Regions from separate parts of the Homo sapiens genome. Here region 2 is linked to region 1. Evidence: fine-mapped expression QTL. A gene starts in region 1. The other region holds a variant in brackets. All regions are shown on one strand. Distances are between the middles of the regions.

Region 1 (16,285 bases):
AGCACTTACCTTCTGGGAAATCACGCGGCTGTACCACATAGAGAAAGATATGCACTAGTTCAAAGAGAATGCCAATGGGTCCAGCTTTATGGGAGTCTTGGGTCTCATAATTTGTTGCAGGCAATTCATAATTCCAAGCCTTAGGAGCATCTGTGGATGAAGGCTGCCCTCCTGAAAAGGAGTTCCCGCACAGCCCCAGCAGCAACAGGGAGCCGAGTACGAGGGCCATAGCTAGCAAGATCCTCCAAACATGAGGTAGAACTTGGTGCCTCCTGCCTCAGAGCTTCTGGAAGCCTTGGGGAAGGCAAGCGTGTTCCTGGGCAGAAGAGGAGCAGGAAGCACTGGATCTGCTGAATCTTCAGTTTTCTGTCTGAGGCTGGCTTGAGGCGAGGGATGCGGAAGAATGTTCTCCAAGGGGGTCATTCACTCAAGGCACCATCCCTGGCAGGGAGAGAAACAGCAGCAGAGTCATCAATGCGTGTAAACTGCCTGCACCTGGAGCTGCCCGGAGAGGACGCTGCAAAGCTTTAGAGCAAGGCCTCCAGCCTAATCCGGATGGGTGGGTGGAAACCAAGCACACAACCTGCTCCAGAGCCACAGGGCAGGTGCTGGCATCAAAGCCATGACTCACAGAAGGTCCCTTCTCAGGAGGGCCAGACTCAGAACACAGACCCTTTATGGGTTCGGGAAATACTAAATATTGTAGAGAAAGCTTGAGATCTTGGAAACTAACATTTATTGAGCACTTACTATCTTCCAGGCACTGTTCTCCATGCTTCATAGATAGAAACAAGGTCCTCCTTGTTTAAGGCATTATTCCATTTTGCAGATGAGGAAACTGACACAGAGAGGATTCTGGTGACTTGCCCAAGGTCACAGGTGATTAACCATGTGGCCAAGAGTCAAACCCACTAGTTTGCCTTCAAAGTCCAAGATCTAACTATGACATCAAGACACTGTCCCTTCAGTGCCCTCCCTAATGTGGGGAAAAGAAAGAGAGATCAGATTGTTACTGTGTCTGTGTAGAAAGAAGTAGACATAGGAGACTCCATTTTGTTCTGTACTAAGAGAAATTCTTCAGCTTGAGATGCTGTTAATCTATAACCTTACCCCCAACCCCGTGCTCTCTGAAACATGTGCTGTGTCCACTCACGGTTAAATGGATTAAGGGCTGTGCAAGATGTGCTTTGTTAAACAGATGCTTGAAGGCAGCATGCTCGTTAAGAGTCATCACCACTCCCTAATCTCAACTACCCAGGGACACAAACATTGCGGAAGGCCGGAAGACCGCAGGGACCTCTGCCTAGGAAAGCCAGGTATTGTCCAAGGTTTCTCCCCATGTGATAGTCTGAAATATGGCCTCGTGGGAAGGGAAAGACCTGACTGTCCCCCAGCCCGACACCCGTAAAGGGTCTGTGCTGAGGAGCATTAGTATAAGAGGAAGGCATGCCTCTTGCAGTTGAGACAAGAGGAAGGCATCTGTCTCCTGCCCGTCCCTGGGCAATGGAATGTCTCGGTATAAAACCCGATTGTATGTTCCATCTACTGAGATAGGGGAAAACCGCCTTAGGGCTGGAGGTGGGACATGCGGGCAACAATGCTGCTCTGTAAGGCATTGAGATGTTTATGGGTATGCATATCTAAAGCACAGCACTTAATTCTTTACCTTGTCTATGATGCAGAAACCTTTGTTCACGTGTTTATCTGCTGACCTTCTCTCCACTATTATCCTGTGACCCTGCCACATCCCCCTCTCTGAGAAACACCCAAGAATGATCAATAAATACTAAGGGAACTCAGAGGCCAGGATGGATCCTCCGTACGCTGAACGCTGGTCCCCTGGGCCCCCTTATTTCTTTCTCTATACTTTGTCTCTGTGTCTTTTTCTTTTCCAAGTCTCTCGTTCCACCTAACGAGAAACACCCACAGGTGTGGAGGGGCAACCCACCCCTTCAATTAACCATGCGGCCAAGAGTCAAACCCACTAGTTTGCCTTCAAAGTCCAAGATCTAACTATGACATCAAGACACTGTCCCTTCAGTGCCCTCCCTCTCAGGCTCTAGTACGAGCCACTGGGGCCCCAGCAATCCAGTACATGCTTATATGCTTATTTCTTCTCCAAGTGTGTGTTGTTCTCTTTGCCGCTGGAGATATATCTTACTCTGCCTTATATTCTACTTATTTACTCACTAATCTCATTTCAAACATCCCCCTCTCCACCTCACCCCGAATCCAAAGTAGAAGGGCATGGCCTCAAGTCTAGGGACCACACCGTTTGAGGCTGGACACATGTGCAACACTGGAACCTGTCTTTCTAATAAGCTTACCAAGTAATCCTGATGGAAATCTTCACCCTAAGTCACCACCTCTACAACTAGGGGTCTCAGAGATGAAAGCCAGGGCAGAGGGAGACTCTTACCTACCCCTTGGGAGACGGAGAAAGACACAAGAATCCTAAAAGCAGCTGTGGCTCCAGCATCTGGGAAGGGAATGGGACAGAAAGTGCCTCCAAGATGGACTCTGTCCTACTCTTCTTTCAATCCCCAGACCTTAACACTGGGCATGGCACGTAGTCGGTGTTTAGTAAGTGCCTGCTGAGCAGCTTGTTTCACTCATGGCACCATCCCTGGCAGGGAAAGAAATAGCAGCAGAGTCACCAATGCATGTAACCTGCCTGCAGCAAGAAGTGCCCCAGACAGGAGGCTGCAAAGCTTTAGAGCAGGGCCTTCAGCCTAATCCAGGTAGGTGGGTGGAAACCAAACACAGCCTGCTCCAGAGCTACAGGGCAAGTGCTGGCGTAGAAGCCAAAATATGTTATTTCCTTGTGCGGTTTCATGAGACTAGGCAAATCAGCACAGAACCTGGAAGGATCCCAAGTGTACCACTCTTCCTCTCTGTATTAAGTGTCCTGGAGCAAGAGCAAGCTGCTGTCACTTTGTGAGCTAGATACATACTTACTAACTTTCAAGATAAGTACAGGGTGCTCCTGAAACACATACTGTAAGAAAGGGAAGGGGGATGATGAAGAAGGTGACATACTTTGCAAGAAGCCAGAGGACCCACTACCAATATTCCAAGTCAAAGAAAGCTTTGGACAACAGATGGGATTTCTTGAGCTATTTGAACAAAGATGTTAATTCATATCTAATCCCTCCATTGCCTCATCTTCTAAGTCCTGTCCCACTCCAATTACTCCTGCACAAAGCTACCAATACAAGGGCCCCAAATTCTTCCTTTGTCAAATCATGGGCTGCTCAGATCCCAAGTGGCTGCCAGTACTAACCTCAGGCCCACGCTTCAGGTTACGCCCACCGTCACATCCACAATAGACACCTTGACCCTGGTGTTTCCAAAGGGCTCCCTTCAAACATCTACTGCAAGCACAACACACCACATGTACACTTTATCTTGGTTTTTTTTTTTGCTAAAGGACAGGCAGAGAGCTAAGCCTCCAGCACAGCAGCTGGAAGGATTAAAGGCTCAGATGCTGAGAAGGCCCACTTTCTGGTAATTCCACCAAACCTCAGCCCAGGACAGAGAGAAACTGCCAAGGGAAGAACTATGAACAAACAGGCTCTCCAACTCCCTCAGTGACAAAGCAGGGGAAGGGAAATTCCCAGTGAAGTGAAACATAACTGCTCACCGCAGCAAAGATGGGAGACAATGACTTGAGATAGACAGCAACTGCAGTTGCACTTCCAGATTTCTTTACATCTTGCTCCAAAATGTAGGTCCCTCTGAAGTTTTAAAGTACATTTTAAGAAAGTATTAATATCTCACTAACTATGAAATACTAGAAACTGATTAAAGTCAAGTCAAAGAGGAAGAGTTTTTTATCTCGGGTTTAATAGGTTGTGCCAAAAACAGAAGCTCTGAGTATTTACCAGCTAAACCCCACTAGGTCCGAGAGCCACTGAGAGTAGCATCTGTCTCGGGATAAAATGGGGTGTTTAGTTGAAATGCAGACTATTAATGGACCTAATTTCTGGGATGAAACCCATTAATCTGCATTTTTAACAAGCTTTCCTGGGGACTGATCCTTCAAACAAAGTTTGAGAACAGTTCTGTTCCTGGAGTACTCTGATCCTGGAGTACCCGCCTAGTCAATTCATGTCACTTTCCAAGGACACTTCAGGCTTCCCAAACACATTGGAAAATAACACATGTAAGGTGAAAGCTCCCCAAATGCCCTTTTCATATTGCTTTGAATTGATCTACCCCAGCTGCTGTGCAGGTCCCTGGCTTATTTCTGTATCCCCAGAGCCTGGAACACAGTTGGTACTCAATGAAGAATTGCTACCAGCCTGGGCAACATAGAGAGGCCCTGTCTCTACAAAAAAAAAAAAAAAAAAAAAAAAAATTTAAATTAGCAAACGTAGTGGTGCACAACTGTAGTCCCAGCTACTCGGAAGTCTGAAGCAGGAGGATTACTTGAGTCCAGGAAGCTGAGCCTGTAGTGAGCCATAATCATACCACTGCACTCCAGCCTGGGCGACCTTACATGATTTTGAGCCTGGAGTCCAGAGAACTGCATTTCAATACTGGTTTAAAAGCAAATATGGCCCGGGCGTGGTGGCTCAAGCCTGTAATCCCAGCATTTTGGGAGGCCGAGGCGGGCGGATCACGAGGTCAGGAGATCGAGACCATCCTGGCTAACATGGTGAAACCCTGTCTCTACTAAAAATACAAAAAAAATTAGCCAGGTGTGGTGGTGCACACCTGTAGTCCCAGCTACTCGGGAGGCTGAGGCAGGAGAATCACTTGAACCCGGGAGGCGGAGGTTGCAGTGACCTGAGATCATGCCACTGCACTCCAGCCTGGGTGACAGAGACTCCATCTCAAAAAAAAAAATTAAAAATGAAAAAGCAAATATGGTGATCAATCACCTTCATTTCTTCTTTTCTTCTTTTGATGGAACTTCTCAGAATCTTTCTTTTTAAAGAAGAGCTTTGTAGTGGATTTTTGTCATCTGGAGTGCTTTTGGCGGGGGCATGGGGGATACCCAACATCTGAGACCACGTTTGTGAGCTGGGTGGGAGGCAGCCCTGCCTTGCATTGTGAGGTCAGCTGAGGCGCCCAAACTGTGTCCTGGTGGAGCTGAGCCATGCTGGGCCAATCAGAAGCTTTCTTCTGGGCCTGGGCCTGCGCACTCTGAAGCAGGACAGTATCTAATTCATTCCAGCAATGATGGCAGCAATGCCAGTAGCCACATCCAGGGTCCTGTTCTGGCAGCCGCAGCCACCCACCCATCAGGGGTCCTGTGGCATGTCCTAGATTCCTAAGCCTGGCTAGCCAGCCTTGCTGCCACTTACCTAAGCCACCCAGGGACCATCCTTTCAAGAAGTCCTTTTATATATATACATATACATATATATATGTATATGTATATATATTTTTTTATTATACTTTAAGTTCTAGGGTACATGTGCACAATGTGCATGTTTGTTACATGTGTATACATGTGCCATGTCGGTGTGCTGCACCTATTAACTCGTCATTTACATTAGGTATATGTCCTAATGCTATCCCTCCCCACTCCCGCCACCTGACAACAGGCCCCGGTGTGTGATGTTCCCCTTCCTGTGTCCAAGTGTTTTCATTGTTCAATTCCCAACAAACGGTGCTGGGAAACCTGGCTAGCCATATGTAGAAAGCTGAAACTGGATCCCTTCCTTACACCTTATACAAAAATTAATTCAAGATGGATTAAAAACTTAAATGTTAGACCTAAAACCATAAAAACCCTAGAAGAAAACCTAGGCAATACCATTCAGGACATAGGCATGGGCAAGGACTTCATGTCTAAAACACCAAAAGCAATGGCAACAAAAGCCAAAATTGACAAATGGGATCTAATTAAACTAAAGAGCTTCTGCAGAGCAAAAGAAACTACCATCAGAGTGAACAGGCAACTTACAGAATCCAAGAAGTCCTTTATCTGATAAAAATTACCCCCGACTCAGCTTCCACTGTTTTAACAAAGTATCTTGACCCTTAACAAATCTCAGAAATAGCTCTTTGCTCCCTGAAAAACCTATTTCCTTTATATTTTAAACAGTACCAACTTGGTTTAAAGTTTTCAGCTTGTCCTCTGATGCATTTGTTCACCTCATTGTACTAAAACACAAAGAAACTGTCTCGTATAAAAATCAGAAGGAAGTTTAGAAATCAGAAAGAAGTTTAGAAAAGTTTAGAAATCAGAAGGAAGTTTAGAAAAAAATTATGGAACACATGAAAAAAAAAACAAGAATAAACTAAAGGGCACTGCTGAATAGACAGACAACAGCAACAGTAAGGGGGCTCTGGTCCCCCTTACTAACTCTGCCAAGATGACAGTTGTTTGAATTCTCCAACCCTTCTTCTGCTCCTCTGTCAAAGGAGGATTTCGCATAGGGTTCGCAGGCTAGCGATCTAATAGGTAAAGCACCTGGCACGCAGCTGGAAGGCTATCTGGGGTCTGTCTGCTTCTGCTAGCATCAATACTCTGAGCTCAACTCCACCGGGGCTCCTAGGATAACCGGGACAGAAAGGACGGTGAGAAAAGAAAAATGAGTAACATCACACAAGTTGAATCATATGAGGTTGACGATATTCACATCTTCCATCCAAAAAACCGACAATTTCTTATGATTCAACCCAACATATCGCAGCGGTTGTTCGTGTCGCATGAGTCTCGGGGGGCACTCAAGAACTACGATCGTGCACTTGCTTTCTTAACAAAGAACAGCTGCCGCCCTCAGGAACTCCAGCAAACCTTTCTCCAGAAAGGTCAGTCGCCTTAGCGGGCTCCAGGAGCAACCTGTTGCAGAATGAAGCCTGGGGCGCCGGCTTCCCCGCCCTTTACCTCCAAACCACCTCCAGGCCAAGCCCCCTCCAGGCCTAGCTCCCTTCTGGGCGGAAGCCTCTCGCGAGCTGCGGGACACAAAAGAATGAGCGGCGGGGCGGGCGCGGGAAGCCAAGAGACTCCAGGAATTCGCAGCCGCGCAGGGGAGGGGGTTGCCGGAGTAACTTGGCTGCTCTGAGCGCGTCGGCGCCAGTTCCCCGCCGCGGCCCCTGTTGGGCACCGATCGGGGGCGATCTTGCCAGAGAGAAGGGGTTCTGGAGCTAGTTCCTCCCTCCGATCCGACTCCCTGCCCCTCCAGACACGGGCTTTCGGGGAAACTGATCCCGAGCCTCTGACTTTCTACAGCCGTGAAGCTCCTGGTCTGTCCACGCTCCTCTTTGTTGTCCGGTCGGCGTGTTCTGGCAGGGTGCGCCTTGAGCACCCCAGTTCTCCATCTAGCGATAGCCGCGGGTCCCCGCGCATGCAAGCAGAAGGGCCGTGGAGCGAGAGGCTGGGAAGGTGCTTCAAGCCAGGGGTGCATGCTTTCTCCCACGGACGCGGGGAGATGGCCTCGCTTTGTACCCCCATATCCCTACTCCCGCTGTGGTCGGCTGCACAGTGTTGGCCCATTTCCGCACTCAGCCAGGGAAGCTCAGCGCCTCACGTCCCCGGGGCCATCCCTAGAGTTTCCTTTACCGCAGACTCGTTCCCAAGACCCTGGCGAGTCTCACCTCGGTCACCGTTCTCCCCGAGAGCGAGTCCGAAGTCTCTGGGGCCCCGGTCCAGTTCGCACACTCACCTCCGACTCCCGCTCCGGAACCACGGCCGCCGGCTACCCCCACCCCCGCCCCCATCCCCAGTGGATGGAAAGAAGACCCAAGCGGGGCGTCGCGGGCCACCACTCAGACTAAAAAGTTTGGGTTGGACGGGCACCGGCACCACCACGCTCTCCCCGCAGTTCCTCTGGCCCCCAGCCGCTGTCCGGGCCCGCACCACCTGCTGAGGGGCCAGGGAGGCGGCGCAGATGGCTAGGGTAAGGGGGGCGCAGAGCGAACCCGTCCACTCCTCACTGTACACCCCCAGTACAGTGGAAGGAGTGCGCTCAGCCCCGCGCCTGGTCAGCAGATGCCTCTCTCGCTCCGGGATGAGGACCCAGCTACTCACCGTGCACCCGGCTCCCGCTCCTGCTCCCGCCCTAGTCACCGCTGCCGCCGCCCTTCCCTTAGCTCGCCAGACCCTGGCTCGTGAATTATTTATGACCCGGCTTCTGGGACCACCGCGACGGCTTTCGGAGAGCCCGCCTCCCACTGCCGGCCGCGGAGGGGCTCAGGCGGCGCTGCGGCCGGACCCTCGGACGTGGCGGGAGGCAGGAGAAAGGCCCGGGTGCCCGGGGGGACCCGTTGCGGCTTCCTCTGTCCCGGACGGGGACCTAGGTATGGGGCCGCCGTAATGGAAAGGATTCCTTAAACATACTCACCGCGGCGGGAGAGCTGAGAGCATGGCCAGGTGCCGCGTGGGGATCTGCCTCAGTCACTTAAAGATCGCGAAACCCGAGCCCTGGACGCACTCTGATTGGACCGGCTGAGCTGCTTCGCCACGTAGCCCTGGGGCGCCCACCAGCACCTGGACAGCATCCATTTCCTGTAGAGGTGCCTGCTCAACCCCCTGCACTCCCTTCTTGCAACGCTTGCGCCTCTTTTCCCCCCGCAGAGTCCCTTACTTAGAATGCAGCTACCCTCCTAAAAACTCTCCTGTCTCATCCCGGCCGCATTAGACCCTTCTGTTGCCTAATCCCAATGCAATTTAAAACAAAACAAAACAAAACAAAACAAAACAAAAAACAAAAAAACAATCATTTGGATCCTTAGTGTGCAGCAGTACCAATGCTAGTGGCTGAAGCGGTTGAAAAACAGCATAAAGCCATATTCGCTCCCATGTGTACACACAGGCATCTGCTATAACGTGAAGCCACTGCAACTTCTTTTCTCACTGCCTATTGGTCTTCCCGCTCTGTGAGTTACAACTCAACCTCGGAGTCTTCACCTTGCTACTTAGCTGAGTGGTGGAAACCTGTCAGAAGTAATCACTCGGTGTCTAAGTGTCCTCACCAATTTGCACTTCACTCTTATTCACCACTTCTTATCTTGAATTGAGAATACTGTACTCTCCGGCAGGCAAAAAAAAGACTTAGGGAAGAAATGCACCTTCAGGATGGTGTCTAGCATACAGCAGGTGTTTAATACATGTTTGTGATATGGATAGACAGATGAAAGGATGGATGCACAAGCTACAAATGAATGATAGACAGGAACATTAAGTCAGTACCTTTTTCTTTTTACCCCAGAATCTAACATAAAACAGGTACTGGAAAATAAGCATTTTTTGTTTTTAATAGTTAGATTGATCTTGAGTGTGTATATTTCTAGACAAGAAATGTTAGTTCAGAAAACTTCCAAAAAGTACAGTAGGACATGGCAAGGTTAGATGGTTTGGCTCTGTGTCCCCATCCAAATCTCATATTGAATTATAATTCACTGGGAGAGGGACCTAGTGGGAGGTGATTGGATTATGAGGGCGGATTTCTCCCTTGCTGTTCTCATGATAGTGAGTGAGTTCTCAGGATATCTGATGATTTAAAAGTGTGTGGCACTTCCCCTTTGCTCGCTCTGTCTCTCCTTCTGCCATGTGAAGATGTGCTTGCTTTCCCTTCTTCCACCATAATTGTAAGTTTCCTGAAGCCTCTCTGGCCATGCCTACGGTACAGCCTCTGAAACCCAGTCTCAGGTAGTTCTTTATAGCAATGTGAGATCAAACTAATATGGGTGGAAAACAAATCTCTTCTAATCAGGGCAGATTTCCCCTCTGCAGCCCCTGCAGGTCAGAAGTTTCTGGTTGAACATCTGCTGGGGTCCCATAAACCTTCTCCTAGATAGCACTTTTAGGCTGGAGCTAGCAAAAGAGGTGATTTCTCAAAGGAGTGGGTCCTGATCTCCGTCAAAGTTTGGTCCCGCCTCTTTTAATCGCTGTGACTTTGGCTGCTTAATATTTCTCTGAGCCTCAGTTTCCTGGTCTGCAAAATGAAGACAATTATAACTCACAGGGCTCATTTTCATTCCTAATAATATCAACAACAATAGTATCAGTAGAAAGGGGTGAAGCAAGATGGTCAAATAGAAGGTTTGACCACCCACCCCCCACCCCGGCTAGGAACACAATTTAACTGCTATCTACACACACAAAAAGCACCTTTATAAGAACCAAAAATCAGGTGAGTAACCACAATACCTGGTTTTAATTTCATATTACTGAAAGAGGCACTGAAGAAGCCAGGAAAGACAGTTTTGATTTGCCAATGCCGCCAGTCCTCCATCCCCCAGCAGCAGCAGCCTTGTGGCTTGGGAAAGGGAGAGTGCAGTGATTGGGAGACTTTGAATTGAACTCAGTACTGCTCTGTCATAGCAGAAAGCAAAACTAGGCTGAACTCAGCCAATTTCCCTCAGAGGAAATAGCCCATACCAGTGGTGAAAACTTGAGTTTCAGTAAAGTGCTCTGGGGCCCCAAATAACCTTAAAGGCAGCCTAGGCCACAAGGACAGCAACTCCTAAGCAAGCCCAAATGCTGAGCTCAGAGCCAGTAGACTTGGAGGGCATGCGACTTACTGAGACACCAGACAGGGGAGCTAAGGGAGTGCTTGTGACACCCCTACCCCAACCCCAGGTAGTGCTGTTAGTGGCTCTTCATCACTGCATGCCCTTTTCTAGCACTCATGCCTCTTTTACCCCAGCAGAGCTCTCTACTTGGAATGCAGCTACCCTCCTAAAAATGCTCCTCTCTCAAAAACTCTCAGCCACATTAGACCCTTCTGTTGCCTAATCCCAATGCAGTTAAAAAAACAAAACAAAAATAATCATTTGGATCCTTAGTGTCTGCATCAGTCCCAATGCTAGTGGCTGGAGTGATTAAAAACAGCACGAAGAGACCCATTCCTTCTGCTTGAAGAGAAGAGGGGGAAGAGTAAAGAGGACTTTGTTATCTTGAATATCAGTTTAGCCACAGTAGGACAGGGCATCAGTCTGAGTCATCAGACCCCCATCCCAGGTCCTAACTTGTGGATAACATTTCTAGACACATCCTGGGCCAGAAGGGAAACTGCTGCCTTGAAGGGAAAGAAACAGTCTGGGCAGGACCCATCACCTGTTGGCTAAAGAGCCCTTGGGTTCTCAATAGCCAGAAGCAATACTCAGGTAGTACACTGTGGTTCTTGGGTGTGACTCTGAGATCTGCTGGTTTCAGGTGAGACCCAGTATATTCCCAACTGTGGTGGCTAATGTGAGAGACTCCTTCTGCTTGACAAAAGCAGAAGGAAAAGTAAAGAGGATGTTTTCCTTCCCCTTAGGTACCAGCTCAGCCACAGGGAGGTAGAGTACTAAGCAGGCTCTTGGGGTGGTCTTCAATGCCCAGACACCAATGAATATCCAAAAGCTTCCAGACCACCCAGGAAAACATGACCTCACCAAACAAACTAAATAAGTCCCCAGGGAACAACCCTGGAGAAATAGAGATATGTGATGTTTCAGACAGAGAATTCAAAATCAATATCTTGAAGAAACTCAGAGAAAATTAAGATAACACAGAAAAAGAATTCAGAATTCTATCAGATAAATTTAATAGAGATATTGAAATAATTTTAAAGAATCAAGCAGAAATTCTCAAGTTTAAAAATGCAACTGACATACTGAAGAATGCATCAGAGTCTTTCAATAGCAGAATTGATTAAGGAGAAGAAATAGTGCACTTTTAAAGACAGGCTATTAGAAAATACAGTCAGAGAAGACAAAGAAAAAAGAATAAAAAATAATGAAGCATGCCTACAAGATCTAGAAAATTACCTAAAAAAGCAAATCTAAGAGTTACTGGCCTTAAAGACAAGGTCGAGAAAGAGATGGGGTAGAAAGATTATTCAAAGGGATAATATCAGAGAACCACTCAAACCTATAGAAAAGTATCAATATCCAAATACAAGAATTGTATAGAACACCTAGCAGATAAACCCAAAGATGACTACTCCAAGGCATGCAATAATCAAATTCCCAGAGGTCTAGGATAAAGGATCCTAAAAGCAGCAAAAGAAAAGAAAGAATTAACAAACAATGGAGCTGCAATACATCTGGCAGCAGACTATTCAGTGGAAACCTGACAGCCCAGGAGAGAGTGGCGTGACATACTTAAGCTGCTGGAGGGAAAAAACTTTTACCCTAGAATAATATATACAGCAAAAATATTCTTCAAACATGAAGGAGAAATAAAGACTTTCTCAGACAAACAAAAGCAGAGGGATTTCATCAACACCAGACCTGTCCTACAAGAAATGCTACAAGGAGTTATTCAATCTGAAAGAAAAGGATGTTAACAAGCAATAAGAAATCATCTGAAGATATAAAACTCCCTGGTAATCGTAAGTACACAGAAAAACACCGAATGTTATAACACTGTAACTGTGGTGTGTAAACTACTCTTATCTTAAGTAGAAAGACTAAATGATGAACCAATCAAAAATAATAACTACGACAACTTGTCAAGACATAGACAGCACAATAAAATATAAGGAGAAACAACAAAGAGTTTAGAAGCAAGGGGAGGAAGTTAAGGTGTAGAGCTCTTATTAGTTTTCTTTGTTTATGTAATCAGTGTTAAGTAATTACTAACATAAAATAGTGGGTTATAAGAAGATAGTATTTGCAAGGCTCACGAGAACTTCAAGTCAAAGAAACACAATGAATACACAAAAATAAAAAGCAAGCTATTAAATCATACCACCAGAGAAAATTACCTTTGCTAAAAGGCAGACAGGGAGAAATGAAAGAAGGAAGAGAAGACCCCAAAACAACCAAAAAGCAAATAAAGAGCAGGAGTAAGTCCTTACTTATCAATAATAATATTGAATTAAATGGACTAAACTCTGCAATCAAAAGACATAGAGTGGGCGAATGGATTAAAAAATAAGACCCATTGGTCTATTGCCTACAATAAACATATGTGACCTATAATGACACAAATAGACTGAAAATAAGGAACATAAAAAGATATTCCAAGCCAATGGAAACCAAAAAAAGAGCCGGAGTAGCTATATTTATATCAGACAAAACAGACTTCAAAACAAAAACTATCAGAAGAGACAAAGGTCATCATATAATGAGAAAAGGCTCAATTCAGTAAGAGGATCTAACAATTGTAAATGTATATGCACCAAACCCTTGAGCATCTAGACATATAAGGCAAATATTATTAGAGCTAAAGAGACTGCTAGACCTCAATACAATAACAGCTGGAGACTTCAACATCCCACTTTCAGCTTTGGACAGATATTCTAGACAGAAAATCAACAAAGAAACATCAGACTTAATCTGCACTGTAGAATGAGCCTCATAGATATTTACAGAACATTTCATCCGATGCCTGCAGAATAGACATTCTTTTCTGCAACACATGGATCATTCTCAAGGATAAACCATATGTTAGGTCAAATCAAGTCTTAAGACATTTTTTAAAAACCTGAAATAGCATCAAGCATCTTCCCTGACTACAGTGGAATAAAACTAGAAATCAATAACAAGAATGATTTTGGGGACAGATACCCCATTTACCCTTATGCCTTATTACACATTGCATGCCTGTACCAAAATATCTCACATAACCCATAAATATATGCACCTACTCTGTATTCACAAAAATTTTAAATTAAAAAAAAAACAGAAGTAGTGAGAGTAACACCCACACTTAACGAGCATTTACTATGAATGAGGCGCTGGGCCCAGTGCTTTAAATGAATTATTTTATGTAACCTTAGCAACAACAGCAGTTTGAGATCATATTATCTCTATCATAAAGATAAGGCTAAAATAGGTTCAGTAACCTGAGGTCACCAAGGTAGTAAGTCAAGCACTAAATTTGAACTCAGATCTGGCCCATGATCACCAATGCACCAGAAGATAACATAAAACCTTTTCAGGCCACTGCCACATTGGATTGAAATGGGTGGCTATCTGCCTTACGGTAGGGCACCAAATGCTTCAACTGTTTTCACCCATTTCCATACCATATACCAACATCTCCACCTGGACCATTGTGGTTGTTCAATAAGTGAGTGAATTAATAATAAACATAGAACACAATATTATGACCTAGTCTGGGCAGCCTTTTGCAGGCAGTGACAAGACCTAAGGATTTGTTCCATTCAATTCCACTTGGAACTCTCATTCTACAATCCAGCAATTTAGCTCAACTGAATGCCTATGTCATTTGTTACATGCAAGGCTAGAGGGTGAGATGTTTATTCCGACACACACACTCAGAGTCATTAGATGCAAAAGCTTAGATGTCCCTTTCTGAAATTACTGCTCATTTTTCCTGCCCAGATGAAATCTAATCATGAAATAGCATGATGTTCTAGAAAGAGAACTGGACTGAGAGCCAGGAGATTCATTCAGGCTCCATCAGCTGCCAACATGGGCCCTGGTAAGTCAGCAACCTTCCTGAGCCTTACACTCCTCATCAGCACAATAGCTGTGCTCAGTGACCACATGGGCTAGCGGCTGAGGAAAGGTTTTAGTTATTTTTCTCTGAGTCACTAAGACTAAAACAAAATAGGTTTGTGCTCAAATTATTCCAATTAACCTAATAATTTCTACCATGAATAACCATGCTTTAAAAAAAAAATTATGTGTTTGTATAACCAACACACATGGCAGGATATGACCCTGAAAGAAAGAGAGCTGTGTCATCTCATCACATGCTGCTCTGTTCTCTTAAGACTGAAATTTGTGTACCAGATAGTCAAGGAGAGAGGGAGAAGAAAGGAGAAGAGGAAGGAGAAAGAGAGAGAGGGGGATTGAATAGCTTCATGCAAGCCACAGTTGTCCTGTAAATATTTAACTTCATGAGTTCCTGTTCCTCTGGTCTTTTTGGTTTTTTTTTTTCCTTCCTTGCTCTGCACTTGGATACCAAAATAGCATTGCTGGTGTTTAATAACCAAAAGCCAGGAAAACATTCTTCTTGTACTTCAAGCACCTTCAGGTATGATTCGTAACTTGTCATCAAACCCATTCCACACTAACTCAAAGGCAGAGGAAGAAAACTTCAATCCAGCTTGAACAAAGGGGAGGAAAGGGCAAGATGGAGCCTCAGAGCTTGGATTCGGAATGTGAAAGCTGGGGAGCAGTTGGAAAATTCAGTCACACGTTGATGGGGGCTGTGAAGAGTAGTTTTATCTTTCACGAGTCAAAATCTGGTTTTCAATGATCATTTCAAATAAAGTTCTCATCTCTAGAGCCAGCTTTCATCTGTGCGTTTCCCTCTGACATCATTTTTAATATGCGCCAACTCCAATGGGGCTTTGTAACTTACCTTTAGTAACCATGTGGAAAAAAGGAGAGCAGCACAAAAAGCATCCGGGTACTTTCTCTCACTTGCTCCAGGAAGGGGAGATTCCATCCACCGAAGTGCTGTGGAGGGATTGCTGAAGCGGGCAGCCAGGAGAATTCCATAATTTCTGATTCTATAGTTGTCAATTTTTATCATAATCCATAAAAGTTTCACCCAACAACTTACAATTTATAGAACAGCAAAACATATGTCAATGATAAGCAATGTTTTACCTTTCTGGGAATAATTACTATGACTAGCTTTCTCTAAAGACTTATTAATTTGCCCTTATTCCCATCATCATCTGAAAGTACGTATTAAGCATCTGTTAGTCAGTCATTCCATCAGTAATATTCACTCTGCACCTATTATAGGTCGGAGTTAGGGACTCTAGTTACTGAAATGACCTCTGGCCCAGAACATACATGTGAAAATAAACTTTTTATCAAATGCTGTCTTTTTTTCATACTGACCCCTTGCATATTTACCCCATGTGAAACATTTTTCTTAAAAGCAGTCTCTGCAAAATTCTCTTCTGCTTCATATTTTATCTGCTACCTGAGCTACAATCAGATAATTATTTTAAACCCAGAAAACCTCATGCTAATTCAAGCACTCTTCCTTTTTGCCAGAGCAATCAAAGTGTTAAATTATAGTGCCAGCCAGCCACTTATATACAGAAGTGAAAAAGAATAGCAATTTTTATATAGTGGGAAAACCATGGGATGTGAAGGTCAAACAGACCTGGGAATGGGTCCTAGCTCTGCTATTCCATTCATTCTCTCATTCATTCACTTACTCATGCATTCAACAGATGTTGATTGTGTCATTTCTGCAGGACAGACTGAGCAAAGAGATATGGCAGAGAAGAAAACAAAGCCCCCTGCCCTCCCAGAGATTATCGTCTTACAGAGGAGAGCACTAAACCAGCCACCAAATCTATAGGCATGTCACTGTATAGCCTTAAATAAGTTCACCTTAAATACTTCAGCTCTCTGAATTTCAGTCTCCTCACCTATAAAATAGAGGTCTTGCAAAGAT
Region 2 (16,285 bases), 46 kb before region 1:
GGTTTTTTTTTTTCCTTCCATAACCTTTATGAGAAATGCAGCGGTGACAAGCAAAAAGAAAGAAAGGAGAAGAAAGTTGGCTTTTTCTGGAGTAAGACACATCTGCTTAACAGTCTACAGTGAGGGGTGGAAATTCGATCTTGTGCTGATGGTCAAACAGACTGCATAAACATATGTCAGTGTCTACGGAATTCTCACATTCCACAGCTGCCTCTGGGAACCCTCAGAGAAAGAACATGCCCACGTAGATTGCACATCTGCTAGGGCATCTTTCTCCTTAACACCTATGTCTTCCCTTCACCCCCTAAAGAAAAGATTTACATTTTTTAAAATAAAAAAGGATGCTCAAAACTAACTTGAAAACCAACTGCATTTAATTGTAATATTTTGAGCCACAAAATGAAATTGAGTCCAATAAAAGGCAGGTGGACTGCTCTGGGTTTCTGAAAGAATTTTTTAAAAATCACATGCAAAGATTATTTCTCAATAGTGTCCCATCTCCGCTGAAGTCAATGTCAGCTAGAGGCCCTGCATTAAACAAGAGAGAGTCCACTCTCCTATCTTTCCCTCCACTTCCTTTCTTTCCCTTTCTGCCTTCCAATTTTGTTGACATTCTTGTCCTTCTTATTTTTATCTAATCTTCTGATTTTGTTGACATTCTTTCTTCTCCTGTCTAACTACTCATAATAGAGAAATCTTAACTTTCCCCAGGTCTTTAATCCTCCTGCCTAGCTTGGATTACTTGCAAACAATATGTAGGTATTATGCAACTCATGATGTTTAAGGTATTTGCAAACCAGTGGGGGTTTCAAAAGGAAGCCATTAAAATAGCTACCGTAAATCAAAAAGTTCAAGGCAAAGAAGCTTAAATTCTCATCAGAATTTAAAGTGAGAAAAAAAAATTCACACACTACTCTTATTTAAGCCTATTTATAATTTATACATAAATTCAATGTGCTATATGAAATCAAATTAGTTTTAGTTTTGTCACAATCTCAGTTGATCAATTTTGGTTTAATTATATTGAAATCTAAAATTACAATTTTCACATTAATGTTTTACTTGGGTGGGGAAAAAAATTGTTTTAACTGAATGTGTAGGAGGGTATAGAATCACAGCATGCATTTTTAAAAAGAATTTTCTAAATTAAAATATACTTAGAAAAAACATATATTGATTTGATAGGTCTGAGTTCTCAAGAATTAACAAAACGGTAGCTTTCATTTTATATATAAATGGAAGCCAAGTTTATTTTTTACTTTGTAGCTTTATTGTTGATATATTTTGGCATTTTCAACATAATGTAAATAACTCAATCAGCTGAGAGTGAACTATAACATGCATAACACATAACTATATGTAATGCAAATAAAAGTTCAATTTTGAAAAAGAAACCCATTGTAGTGGCTAGGCACGGTGGCTCACACCTGTAATCCTAGCACTTTGGGAGGTCGAGGAGGGCAGATCATTTGAGGCCAGGAGTTTGAGACCAGCCTGGCCAACATGGTGAAACCCCGTCTCTACTAAAAATACAAAAATCTGCCGGGCCTGGTGGCGCATGCTTGTAATCCCAGCTACTAGGAAGGCTGAGGCACAAGAATGACTTGAACCCGGGAGGCGGAGGTTGGAGTGAGCTGTGATAGCGCCACTGCACTCCAACCTGGGTGACACAGCGAGATTCTGTCTCAAAAAAACAAAGAAACCCAATATATTGGAAACCGATTATTACACATGTAAACACTTATTCAGGTAAATAAATAACTACATTCAATAAAGAATTTTCCTGAAATTATACTATATGTATTGACATCAAGTGAAAATTATTAACTTGTTAAATAAGTAATCATTCTAACTAGAAGCCCTAAGGGCAATATTTTCAGATGATGCTTTCACATCCGAGTCTCATCTTTGAGGTCCAGGGTGTATGGAGCGGGTAAACATGGCTGTGCAAGTGTCTAGACAAATGTGGCGTGTAAGTTTCAGGCTTACAGGAAACACACCAGGGATCCCTGGTGGGTTTGACAGGTTTCAGGGCTGTAACCGAGATTCTTCTGGTAGCTGAAAAAGAGGTAACTACCCCTATAACTAGGAGTCTGTGCATTCCTTAGAGTATATCAAATACAAAGCAGAGAGAGACAGGGACATTTGGAATGACCACTACTGACCTGATCCCAAACTGCCTCTCAAAATCAAATGTGAAAAAAATAGCAAGGATCAAATGATTTTTGGAGACACAGAGAAAGAGACAGACAGTGACAGAAAAATACAGAGAGGCAAGGAGAGACAGAAAAGGGAAGAAAAGAGAGAGAGAGAGGGAGAGAGAGATTGACAGGCAGAGATGCCCACACCCCAATGTCATGGAGACAAAACAAGTAACTCTCAGGCTAACCAACAATGCATGAAGTCAGCTAACACATTCACTTGGATCTTGTTTACACACATATATAGTTAAGGTCGATTATTCCACTATTATGAGCAAAAGTATGTCTTTGCTTAAATAGTCACTGCCCTGGAGTAAGTGGTAATGCATTGGCCTTTGTCTGTTGTGAAGATTTTTTTTGTCACTGTTCAAGTTTCAGTTAAGTTAATTCAATAGGTAATACCCGAGCCTGGTACATAATCAAAAGAGACAAAAAGCCCAGCTACAGCAAGAAATGAGTTTCCTTCCTTCCCCTCCACAACCCTCAATTTCCTTTCCAGAGGCAACCACTGTTGCCAGTTTCTTGTCAACCCTTTCACATCCCATCTGCTCTATAAAAATATGACCCAGTGCTTGTGTCTCCTTCCTGATCTTTTTTTTTTTTAACATAGTTACCATGTTCTACACATGGTCTGCAACCTGCTTTTTCACTTCATCTGTCATGGTGACTGGTATCAACAAATCCAGAGCTGCCCAGTCCTCTTCAATGGGTACACTGCATTCCAATGAGTGGTCACCCTAAGCCATACACATCTTATCAGACCCCTGCTGGTGGCCACACTTAAAGGCTTTCCTTCTTGGGTTTGCAGCTAGAACTCCAACTCACAGGACTTACTGTTTTCTGTTAAAATTCCTGAATATCACTTCCTTAGTAAAACTTGAAAAAAATCTTACGGCTACTGAGCACGTGTGGTGTTTGGAGAAACAACAAAGAGAATGCTGTTGGCCAACCCTTGCTGTGCCTTCATGTCATAGGCACATTGATTTCTGCTGCTGCATGAAACAGTGGCGGAATGAATGAGGAAATGTGGAACAATAACCAAGCAACATAACAAGGGAACACTGCTGTGGCGCACTCATCTTCAGATGAGCAATCTAATTTGGACTCGAAAAAACGTCATCTTAAAAGCAATGTATTTCTGATCTGCCAGTCAACTGGAAAACTTTTGAAAGCAGCAGACACTGCAGCAGAAATACCCTAAATCGTGAAGTGTGTTCCAGACTTAAGGGAGGGTAGCGGATTAACAGCACATAAAAGAAAAATGAGTTTATTATTAGAAAGTCAATTGCATTCTACAATATTTTCAAATTTCCAAATTCAGGGACTGCATCAGTCCATCAAGATTCCTTTGGACTCAACTAGCAAATCAACTTGCAGATCCATCTCTCTTTTCTGCATGCTGCCTGCCTGCAAATAGCTAATTAAGAGGAGTCTGCTGTGCTGGGAGGTAAGTCCTTTCTGCAGTCCAAGATTTCTCAGGATACCTTCAAGAGGAAAAAAATACCAAAGGGCTGGCTCATCAGCTCAGCTGGGGCAGCTTCATTACAACGCTAATGTCTGATGATAATGAGATCCTTTCGAATCACTCTAGACAAGCGCTTGTGCTCTCTCTTTTCTGTTTGGTGGGTTTTTTTTTCATTGTTGCTATTTTGTTTAGTTTTAAACTCATGGTTTAACCATAAAAATGTGAGACACTCTTCATCAGCCTAAAACACAATCAGTTGTTGTCCAATATTGTACTTGCCTTATTATTATACAAATCACCAACAGGGAGATTGCAAAGCATTTCCTCAGGAAGGGCCCATTTTCCTTCTGTCGCTGGTGCATTTCTCCACCACATTTGTTACAGCAACGACACATACAAAAGAAATACCCCACCAGAGGCATCAGAATAATAAACAGCAGCCCCAGGACACAGCATAGAATAATCCCTGCTTCATAGTAGACAATCTGCAATTCAAACAAAAGAAACAGCACATATTGTAGCACAAAATAATAAGTAGAACATTCCATGGTGTACAAAGTTCTTTTTTTTTTTTTTTTTTTTTGAGACAGGGTCTCGCTCTGTTGCCCAGGCTGGAGCGCAGTGGCGCGATTTCGGCTCACTGCAACCTCTGCCTCCTGGGTTCAAGCGATTCTTGGGCCTCAGCCTCCCGAGTACTGTATTTTTAGTAGAGACAGGGTTTCACCATGTTGTCCAGGCTGGTCTTGAACTCCTGGCCTCAAGCAATCTACCTGCCTCAGCCTCCCAAAGTGCTGGGATTACAGGTGTAAGCCACCGCACCTGGCCATGTTTCATTTTTTTAACCTATCTGCCATCATTAGTTGAATCTGAATGTGTACATATATATATATATATATGTATGTATTTTTTTCCATTTTGAAACTCCTTTTTGAAACAGAGGAAGCAGAGAATTGAGTAATTAAATACATGGCCAAGTGGTTACTGGAAGATGTCTTTCAACCCCTAGGAAGATGTCTAAATGCTAGTTTGAGCTGCAAATGGTTTAATTTTAACCCCAAAGGTATTTTGTTTGTTTTTAAATGGATCAATAAATCTTGGCAGGAGTACTTGCATAACAATCTACATATAAGGCGCTTTGCACACTGCAAAAATAGAAGTTAAAGATTCAAAGCACTTTGGATTGGCTGGCAAACAATTACTCAAGAATCTGGAATGTATCTTAATTTAGAAAAAAGGCTCAGACTCTAAGTCAGGCACGTTAAACACAGGCCAGTCACAAGGTTCCTCCTCTGATACACTGGAAATAATAATACGTACCTTGTCAAGTCATTGTGAAAATTAGAGATAACGCATGATTAGAAATAATGTGACAAAGGACCAAGCACTGAGTAGACACTTACTAAAGGTGCCTCTCATGCCATGCCCAGGAGCCAGATCCACAGTGAAGGACCGACCTTGGCAGTCCGTGTCTCAGACGGTTCCTGAGTTCCTAGGAACAGCACAATTTCTAGATACAATCATGTGACCTAAACATATTTTCATAATCACTGCTGACTTTATTCCGGGATAAACGAAAATTAATGCAACTAGATGATGAAACTTGATGTCATTCCAATTCATGCATGTAGCTGCTTATATTTCTAAAGAATGGCAGAAAATTGCAAGTTGGCAGTTTGCAACTAAATGGACAATCTAGACAGCTGCGAATTCTGAAGCCAAGCTGAGCAAAGGAAAATAAAACACGAGTCTTGTTCCTGGGAGCAAATGTGATGTCTTGGAGGAGAGACCTGCTTTACATCCCAGCAGGGGGCTTCCAGGTCCCTAAAGTGGATGGTGTCACATTAGCATTAACTTCATAAACATATTGTGAGGGACAAATAACTAAATGACTGAATGTGAAAACAACTAGCCAAGTGCCCAGCACACAGTAGATATTCAATAAATGGTAGTTAACTCTATGAGCAAATGCTCAAGACTAGTAAATCTGGTGCATCTGGCACTTGAATATTATCTACTTCCATATTAAGATTAAATTGCTTAAAAAAAAGAGTGGCTGAATCTTGCTGGGTTCATCAAGTATGTGCTCACGCTTAAGCTAACCCCCATCCCATGTCCACGAAGAGGCATTATTAGGGGACTTAACCCTTCCTCGAGGACCAATACCACTTGTCAGTTAAGAAACCAGCCCAGACATTCCAAACTCTTACTTACGTATTTTTCCATCATTTCTCAGCAAATATTCTAAATTGTTTACTATTTTAAAGAAATGTAAATTCTATCTGAATTCCAGGAGACACTGAACCAAAACCCAGGAGAGAAGATATATTGAAATGTTTTAAATGCACTAATTTTAGCTTTAAATACAAATTGTACATTTGATAACACAGCCTTTCTAATGTTACTGACTAAATATCAGGCAGTATCAGGAACAAGATA[C/G]GGCATTTCAAGAGTTCACTTCTAGGCCGACTAGACGAAGGCCTGTCACTACTTAAACTGTTTTTTGATACACCAAGATCTTCCAGTGCTTTGTTGATTGTGTTGAAGATCAACATGTAAATATTACAGAGATATCTTTCTTCAAAGAGAAGGTTAAAAGTGATGGTAAAAACAGAAATGAAACGGATCATTTAAAAATCTTCACAGTGAGGATGACAGTGAAGAACAGAAAGGCTTTCCAAGAGCAACTTGAAATAGCAGACAAGGACTTTACCTTTAGACCTAAGATTACAGTTTCTGGCTGTAGAAGTCAACGCAGGTGAGGAATTTTGGCAGAGGCAGCATGCATCAAGAAAACAGACAGAAAAAGTTATGAGTGATCAACCATAACCAAGAACATTCATATCCCACAAGGAGGAAATTGGGTGATAGAAGGATAAACATGAGAAAGGAATATAAAACTTGAGTGTGAATTCAAGAAACAGTGTTTTAAGTTGCTCTGAGTTCTGAAATTTACATTTGCATTTACATTTGGATTTCCCAAAAGGTTCTTAATCCGTATGCTAATCGGTTACGCAAAGGAGAATTAGAGGGGAAGTTACAAATGCTTAACACACTAACCATGTGATCTTCATAAAATAGAGAATCAGATCTGAGAACTCCAGAACCAACGGCAGCATCTTCCCAAGTGCCCTTTTCTAAAATAAAAATCTGATGGTGTTATTCCCATGCTTAAAGCGATCAACGGATTCCCACCATTTTTATTCCAAACATCTCAATGTTTGATTTTAAATGTCCTTTCGTGGCAAAATAAAATTAGGTGGCTCTATGTCATTTTCTAGATCACTTTTTTGAAATATTCTGGTCCAGGAAATCTAAAAGTGTAGAAACTATTGCCTCAGCTGGCAGATCTTCACAGCTCTGAGGGAACACCATTTGTGATGGGAATCACTTTTAAATGAGGCATCCAAAATACTGGGACTGGGGGGCAGTTCAGATATACCTGCCTCTGGGGTCACACAGGGCATTTTAAATGATCCCGGTCTCCCTTTCTTGGGGAAGGGGCACGCAGGCTTGTTACCAACCAGGGCACAAGCTCCCAAGCTCACCAGACACAAAGAAGCACCTCACAGTGTGTGTTAAAGAAAAACATTGACTCCTGGGCTCCTCTGCTACAGCACATGAGTCAGAAGATATGGGTAAGACCAGGAATCTGTGTTCCCTGAGCCTCCCAAATAAACGACTTGCCCTGGAGTCATTGGTGTAGGGTCTGCTTCAGGGGGAACCAACCCAACACACTCAGCCTTTATCAGACTAAATCTAGTCAGAAAGCCCTCCTCTAGATGTGGCCTGGATCCTTTGGTGCCTTTGTTTAATTAACCTCTTTCTTTGGATAATGGTAGAAAGCATGGTCCAGTTCCACATCTAGAGTAGGAATCAGCTCATTCATGTGGGCTCAGTTCTGCATCTTCTCTCCACTGCACCCCCACCCAGAGTTTTTATTCATTTGCAAAGGCAAGGAAAGAGAGCAGGAGCCAGGGGTATAAACCAAGGTTATGGGAGTGCCAAATCTAATACCAAGTCAAGCACAAAGACCCTGCCAGGGACGGTGGCAGCCCAGCTCCAGCTCAGACTCACAGGTTCCTCAAGGCCACCTAAGGGTCTCAGGACCTCGTTCTCCAAGTCCCGGATCCCACTGAAGCACTGCCCCTACTCTCATTCCTTGGTTGGCATTCGGGCTGGCTAAGCATGTTATGCTAATTTTGAATATAAATATAAAAGCAACTGTCATTTTCTTCCCCCCAGAGATACAGGCCGACGTGACAATCACATTGGGAGATATAAATGAAGCCTGTGGCACTGAGGAATGAAAATGCTTTCCACGGTGCTGGGGAAGGCTGTGAGCCCTGGGAACAGCTCAGTTCATCTTCCACACAGTCTTCCCTTGCTGAATGTAAACAGCCTCTAGATAAGGCTTTCCTCTTCTGCATTTACTTTTCTCTTGAGTATAATTTTCTTGCAAGTTAAGAATATGATGAGGCCATTTGTAACTACCGTATCTGAGGTAACGATTCACTGGGCAAAAGGGAACTGCCTTCTCCCATGCCGGAAACACTAGCATTCAGATTTGTTGTGCAGGCCAGTAAAAAACGTCCACCTATACATCTGCTTACTGGTAGCCCGATAACCGCCTTCAAACCAGGAAAGGAAGGAACAAAGTGCTTTACTTACCGAGAAGGACTGAGAACCTGGCCAACACATTTAACTAATTTTTATTACCTTACATTCAGTGCTACACACTTTTGTCTGTTTGCTTCATGGGCAACCTACAGTCATAACACACCAAAATCGAAAGACCATTCTCCTGTTTAGGTAGGCAGTCGCAGAGGAGTGCATTGGCAGCAACTTGGGTAATAAGCAGAAAAATGCAAGGAGCCTTGATACTTTCTGAAAATACTATGGATTCACTCAAGAGAGGCGTTCAAGGCCCTCCCAGGATCAGGCCCCAACTTACCTTTTTTTCTCTCCCTCTGGCCAGGGGCCTGCTTCTTTCATACCTTGACCTCTTTGCTCACATGTTCTGAAGCCTGGAATGTGAGAAGAGCGCCCACCCATCCCACCGGCTCTGCCCTTGTATGATCCTTGTTACATTAACTAGATAAGGTCCCTGCTATCTGTCTTCTAGCCTCTTGAGACCAAAGGCTATCATCCTTATCTCCACCTTCCTTCATTTCTAGCCATGTCCTCACACAGCAGGAGCTTCATAAACCTTATACAAATGCAAAGCTACTTTTTAACAAACGATGTTTTATAACAGAGTACACAGTCACCATCTCTAGGAATTTTCAAACAATTCTACTTAATGAGGGAGTTCTCATCCCTCAGCTAAAAGAAAAGTAGCGTAATATTTCTTTTTGAAGAAATTTTAGTTTTTATTTATTTATTTGTTTATTTATTTTGAGATGGAGTCTCACTCTGTCACCCAGGCTGGAGTACAATGGCACCATCTCGGCTCACTGCAACCTCTGCCTCCTGGGTTCAAGCGATTCTCCTGCCTCAGCCTCCCGAATACTTGGGACTACAGGCGAGTGCCACCACGCCCGGCTAATTTTTGTATTTTTAGTAGGGATGGAGTTTCACCATATTGGCCAGGCTGGTCTCAGACTCCTGACCTGGTGATCTGCCCGCCTCAGCCTACCAAAGTGCTGGGATTACAGGCGTGAGCCACCACACCCGGCCTTAGTTTTTAATTTTTAAGTAACATACAACTTGAAAGGTTTTCTTCAAATGCCGCTTTTGAACTTTCTGCTATGGTTCAAATGGGATTTGTAAGGTGGTTCAATATTCCATGAAAGTTCTTAGTCAAAAAAGATTACTAAAATTGCAGATTGAATAACTGGTTATTTAAAGATTTACTTTCAAGTCAGCCAAAATTTTTCTCATACTTCGTATTTTTAATAATAAATACACCAATGAAAAATTACCTTGTCATAATCAATTTTGGATTCATATGCCTTCTGTAAGAATTTTCTCAAAGTATCTGGAAAAAAAGCCACAAAATAGCAATATTATTTTTTCAGTAAAATTATAAAATGCATATTTAGAAAAAGATCTTTATATGCTTAAAAATTATTATACCTATATTTCTATTATTCTTATAATTTTATTCTTATTTCTTAATGTAGGTAAATAATTAATGACCTCTAGCCAGAAGCCAAGAATAGAAGACAAATACTTCTGATTTACTATTTTGTCAGTGACAGAATTAGAGAGTTGTCATTTTTAAGTTAGTAATTTATCATAATACACCTTAATATTTACCAGCAAACCGCATACAGCTTATTAATAATCATTTATAAAAATTTTGCTGAAATTGCTAATTCTTAATTGTCTGGAAACACAAATGAAATTTATTGTTCAATAATTCCACATTTGCCTGATATTAATATTTTACAAAGGAATGGATGAAAGGAATCTTAAAATTAACTCAACCCGGCAGGATGCCGTGGCTCACACCCGTAATCCCAGCACTTTGGGACACAGAGGCAGGTGGATCACCCGAGGCCAGGAGTTCAAGACCAGCCTGCTCAACATGGTGAAACTCCGTCTCTACTAAAAATACAAAAATTAGCCAGGCGTGGTGGCGCATGCCTGTAATCCCAGCTACTTGGGAGGCTGAGATGGGAGGATCACTTGAACCCGGGAGGTGGAGGTTGCAGTGAGCCGAAATCGCGCCACTGCACTCCAGACTGTCAAAAAAAAAAAAAAAATTAACCCAACTCGAGTTCTTAACATGGGAAATCCTTCTCTTCCTGTCTCCAAGCAGTGCATAAAAACCTATGCAATGCAAACTGGAACTTTTCCATAAATACTCATTTAGAGTATTTGCAAATTCTCACATAGGCCTGGGACCAAAAAAGACTAAGAGCCACCTCTTAACCCTGAGCAGCCATCTAAGAATGATATGAGACAACTGAGACATGGACAGAGAGGGTGACATAGTGATTCGTGAGGAGGCCAGACCAAGGCTCAGGACTTCCTTCTCCTGTGCGGGTGCCTTCCCGCCACCTGTACACTCTCTCTCACCCCAGGAAGGAGCTTCTGCAGTGCTATCACTATATCCATCACGCCTGAAATGTACTAATGGGGGGGCAAACGAAACACTACATCAACTCCTTTTTTGATGCAAAAAAGTTCAGATTAACATATAGGAAAACAAAGCAAGCCACTTTCCCACAAGGCTTTCTGCAAAACAACTTTTCTCCTCTACAACTCAGAGATATGGGCTGATGTTTAAAGATTATGCTGCAGGAACAGAGATTTTCAAACTGATATGTACCCAGGGAACCCCAATAGTTTCTTCACAGTACCTCGGGGGCTGCCCAAGGACCAGAGGGACACTGAGGCTGTCTAATCCCCTTCCGACAACACAGGCTACTTCCCCCTTCAACCAGTCAGCATTACTTTGGTCTGTTTTACAGATCAGGCTTTAACATTTCATTGTTTAAAATTTCACTGAATGAAAGAGTCTACTGTTGATTTAAAAACTGAGAAATCATCTGTTTATTAAAATATACTTAGCTGCACAGCATAATATGTTGCAATTTGGGATCTTGATCTAGCAACGAGTTAGAAGGGAATCCAAGCTCCGCCACTTAACTGTGTGTCTAATCTTAGGTGAATAACTGCTACGAACATGCTCATGTGCAAAATAAGACGTCCCTACTCTCAAAGGACCACTTAGGGTGAAGTGAGAAAACATTTATAAATAAAACAGCACCGGGCCTGGCACACAGTGGGCACATGGTATATACCTGCTATCATTATATGAAGGAATTTAGAGCATGCAGATCACAGAACAGTATCCATGGTAAGTGCAGTGTGGAAGACTGTTATTTTGGCCATTCAATATCCATTCACTTTTTTTTTTCCCTTACAAAACAAAAGCAAACAAACAAAAACAAAATGAAAAACTTTGGATTTCTTCTGGGGAACTGCTTCTTCCATCCTCTCAGGCCACGTGGACTGGGGAAGCCGTGAGCCCAGCACCTCAAAGGTAGATCCTCACGGGTCTGAACCAGCGGGTCTCCAAGCATGGGCTGTGGGAATCCCCAAGACATGTTCAGGGTGTCCATGAGGTCAAAACACAAGATGTTAATTGCTTTTTTTGTTGTGTTGACATTTGCACTAGGGTGCAAAGGCGGTGGTAGATAAGAATGCAAGTGATTTGGCACAAATCAAGATGGCAGCTGATACTCATTATATTCTTTGCCATCAGGCACTCATGTTCAATAGTCAGTTACACTTAAGAAGGCTCTTGATAAAGCATTAAAAATTATTTTTATTAAATTTCAACCTATGAGTACAGCTCTTTTTATTATCCTGTGTAAAAAAAAATGGTAACTACACATAAAGCTCTTTCATATACATCAAAGTATAATGTGCAAAAAGCATTTGTGCAAGTGTTTTAAGTTGTGAGCTCAACTAGCCACAGTTTTCATGGAACACCATCTTTACTTGGAAGAAAAGTTGATGGCCAGGCACAGTGGCTCACACCTGTCATCCTAGCACTGTGGGAGGCCAAGGACAGAGGATTGCTGAGCCCAGGAGTTTGAGACCAGCCTGGGCAACTGGGTAACATAGTGAGACCCCACATTAGTCAAGTGTGGGGGCATGCACCTGTAGTGGGAGGCTGAAGTAGGAGGATCATTTGAGCCCAGGAGTTCAACTAAGCCACAGTTATGCCACTGCACTCCAGCTCGGGTGACAGATCGAGACCCTGCCTCAAATAAATAAATAAATAAATAAATAAATAAATAAATAAATATATATATATATATATATATGAAAGGCTGAGAGACAAATTGTGACTATTCAGACTTAGATATACCCAATCTCAGCCCTTAATCGTGGTTCACTGAAGGCTCAAATTCCTGGACTCAAGTTATCCTCCCCTCTCCCCTCAGCCTCCTGCATAGCTAGGACTACAAGTGCACGCCACCATGCACAGATAACTTTTTAATTTGCTTTTTTGTAGAGATGGTGTCTCACAATGTTGCCCAGGCTAGTCTTAAACCCCCGGCTTCAAACGATCCTCTCACCTTGGCCTCCCAAAGCACTGGGGTTACAGGCGTGAGCCACCGTGCCTGGCCAGCATTTTCTCTGAAATGAAAGAAGTGGAGCTTGCAAGTTTAAGAAGCCACTGACAGGATTTGTTGCCAATGATAAAACTAGAGCTTTCAAGCAAAAATCAGAATTTTGCAAAGTGCGTATCCACCACCATGAGCTTGACAGCATTCCAGTACTTATGCCTTTCTAACGTGATCAGTAAGGATATTAAAGAATTTTTGATACTATAAAATGAAATATGTCCACATTTGGGAGATGTGCAAAACTCAGTGAACGAATATTTTCCAAAAGATTCATGCATCATGTCACAAAAGCCTGCGTGGAAAAAGATCCATTCAAAGTGGAAGACAAGGAGGTGGGAGGAGGGTAAATGATTAAAAATTACTTAATGGGTACGGTGTACATTATTCAGGTGATGGATACTCTAGAAGCCCTGACTTCACGACTATGTGCTGTATCCACATCACAAAATTACACTTGTACCCCATAAATTTATACAAATTTAAATTTTTTTAATAAATAAATACAGTGGAAGACAGACCAGTGGCTGTTAATAGATCAAACTATAAAAAATTAATTCACATGGTTCCAGATTCCACATTGCAAATAACCTTTAAAAACTAGCACTTGCACAGTTTTAGTGTGGTATTAAAGAAAAATATCCACAATTATCTGAAAAGACTACTAAAGTACTGCTCTCTTTTACAACTACCTATCTCAGTGAGAGCAGACGTTCACCCTATACATCAACGGAGCTAACACCCAGTACCTCAACGGGAGCAACCCAGATACAGATATGAAAATCCAGCTGACTTGCACTAAGCCAGATGTTCAAGAGATTTGCAAAAATGCAAAAACCAATGCCACTCTTCTCATGATTTTTGCTTTTGGAAACTATAGTTATTTTTAACAAAATTAAGTTATTTATGGAAAGGGTTTATTATCGTTCTTTTTAAATGAATTGACAAATATATGTTAAGGTGTTCTCCATTTTATCTTCAAATATGATAAATATTGATAAACAAAATCTCTCTGGGGCCCTGAATAATTTTTAAGAGTTAAAGCGGATCTGAGACCCACAGTGTGTGAGTGAGACCTTCTGGTCTGAGCCAAGTAACATATCCACCCAACCCCTATAACTTGGTTTAGGAGTCAACAGATAATCCAGCTTCAGCCAGTGAGAGACAGACTCAACAGACTCAAGTCTTGGCTTTTCCTGCTTTTTGTTTGTTTTGTTTGTTTCATAGAGATGGGATCTCATTCTGTCACCCAGGCTGGAGTGCAGTGGTGCCATCATAGCTCACTGCAGCCTCAAACTCCTGGCCTCAGCCTCCAGAGTAGCTGGGACCACAGGCATGCACATCACACCCAGCTAAGCCTTGGCTTTTTCCGGGGAGAAATGCTCACTAACACCACCCTTCACCAGGCCCCTGCTGGAAAGGACGTTGGTCTGGAGTCACTGCCACAGTCCTCCAAGCGCAAGGCAAGAGACTGAGAATTGAAGCCCCACATGAGAACCAGCCCTGGCAGCATCACGGGAGCCCCACTTTGAATGGATATTTTTCTGGACTGCACATGCTGAGAAGGTGGCAGGGATGTGTACTGTAGCCCGAAATACAGAAAACAAGGGGAGCCTGCTCTTGAGAGCACACAGGTTGCCCCATGACGCTGTCTGGGATGTGGTTCTGCGCCTCTCCATCCATTGCTCTGTCCATAGCTCTGACTGCCAGCCTCTCCAGGGTGTGTGGCCTGGGAGTGAGCAGCCCTGTGAACTTCAGTATGGACCTTCTGTGGCCAGCAGCCAAGTCTGCAGAAATGAGTTCTGGAACTCAGGGCCTCTCTGTCTGTCTCCCTCTCACACACCCCCCAGGTCAGGGGACAGCGCTGGCAGGATGTCTTAGCTTCGTGGGATTCTCTTGCAGTTTCTCACTACACTTCAACAGGACATGCAGCAGGAGCTTCTCCAACAGGCTGCGTGCGTATGTGTGCGATTTATGAGTTTTGTGATGTCTGAGCCACGGAAGTAAGCTAAAATAAGAAATGTGCCTTGTGCAGGACCCATATATTATAACAGATCCGTCTTCTTTATGTGAGTCAAAACTCATCTTTGACTAAGATATTTCTGTTCCCAAACTGGCTTCTCTGAATACATATGTAGATTCTGGCCTAAGCTGGGCCTAGTGAAATTCTATCCCTATAATGTTCTCTTGTAAAATGAATAGAGAACTTAAAATCCCCTGTTGTTTGCAGTAGATTTATCAGATTTGTGCCAAGCTTAAGTGCTCTTGGAAAGATTTTGCTGATAGTGTCTGTAAGTCAGCTTGCTTGGGCACTTGTGTTTACTTAGAAATGTGATTAATTAAGAGCATAAATAGTGTTAAGTGCCTCTCTGCGGAGAGACCACAGGGTCCCTCTTTTGCCTTTGGTGGCCCCATCTTAAACACACATAGTTCAGGGGGTCTTGCACGTGGCTCTGTGCTAAGGATTTAATATGTTAACCCATACATTAAAACAACACTGTTCAAGTGAAAGAGATTATTCATATTTTCCAAAAAGACACAGAATAAAATAATATTCAATTTAGAGACTTGCAGAAACTAGGTTTGTACATGCATCATTTTTGTAAATTAAATACTAATTAAAATGCAACTATAATTGTTTCTTTCCAGGCATATAAGACTTTCTGCAGGCACTTCCAAATAAATTTCACAACTTGCCCCTATCTAGACAAAATTCCTGAGGGGACAGGGGGAAGTAGGCAAACCAAGTAGAACTGACAAGCCCAGAAAAAACACAAATCTACATGGTTCAAAAAGTGGTAAGTCTCTGGCTGTGCTGGCATTACACAGGCTATGGAAGATTGAGAGGCATCTTGCCCCAAGAAAAGTGTCCAGCACAGTGCCTGGTATATAATATACGGAGCACTACAGATGCTAAGAGACATGTTAGCCTCTCCCACCTCTACTCTGGGATCCCACGGCCTTCAACACTCCACTCTTCCCTGCCGGCCCTCAGCAAGTGGCACAGAATGAAAGTGTCCCGTGCCATCTGTGTGTTGCCTCTTCCTCCTTGACCCACAGCCCGACTCTATTCCCCAGCTCTTTTGCAGCTAAGAGGGACCAGGGGACTTGAGTTCTGGCCAGCGGAACACAGATGGACATACACGCACACCACTTCCAGGCCTGGCCTCTGAAACCTCCCAAAAGACCCTGCATGTTTGCCCTCTTTATTCTTCTCTCAGCCAAATACAGAGGATCCAGTGGAGAATTCCGAAGCCCAAGTGGCTGGCAGAACCATTAGGTAGAGCGAGCCGCAGTCCCCAGACCACACCACCCAACTCACGGCAGCCTCTATGTTGGACTGAGCAGTGAACCACAAACATTTTGTACTGAGATTTGGGCTTGTTTCTCTTAGCAAAGGGTGTTGCTTACCCTAATACAACACACCTTACCGAATTAAGACCCCCAACATTTTCTAGCTACGTGCCTCCTCTACCAGTAGCCTATCCTGTCAGCTTTGACTAAACAAAGAATGAGAAAAAACAAAACAAAAC

Alleles and levels. Alleles are on the strand shown, and positions count from the first base shown. SD is a standard deviation of normalised expression in the study named.
With allele C in place of G in region 2, the expression in aorta of the gene that starts at base 8,346 in region 1 is higher (large effect, 1.1 SD a copy in GTEx).

What was found.
Region 2: its variant is fine-mapped to the expression of PROM1 in aorta (GTEx, PIP 0.94).

What each region holds. Positions count from the first base shown.
Region 1 is chr4:16,075,678-16,091,962 of GRCh38, forward strand. PROM1 (prominin 1) reads right to left here and starts at 8,346. Exons shown (of 28, transcript NM_006017.3): 1 at 8,301-8,346; 2 at 10-441. The coding sequence starts at 229. RefSeq lists enhancers at 751-1,468, 1,469-2,186, 3,532-3,621.
Region 2 is chr4:16,029,359-16,045,643 of GRCh38, forward strand. PROM1 (prominin 1) reads right to left here. Exons shown (of 28, transcript NM_006017.3): 3 at 9,588-9,643; 4 at 6,377-6,403; 5 at 3,946-4,151. Among named protein-coding and RNA genes, the nearest start is that of PROM1, 47 kb to the right of the region's middle. RefSeq lists an enhancer at 13,635-14,276 and a silencer at 14,048-14,342. The variant C/G (reference allele first, on the strand shown) is at 6,103.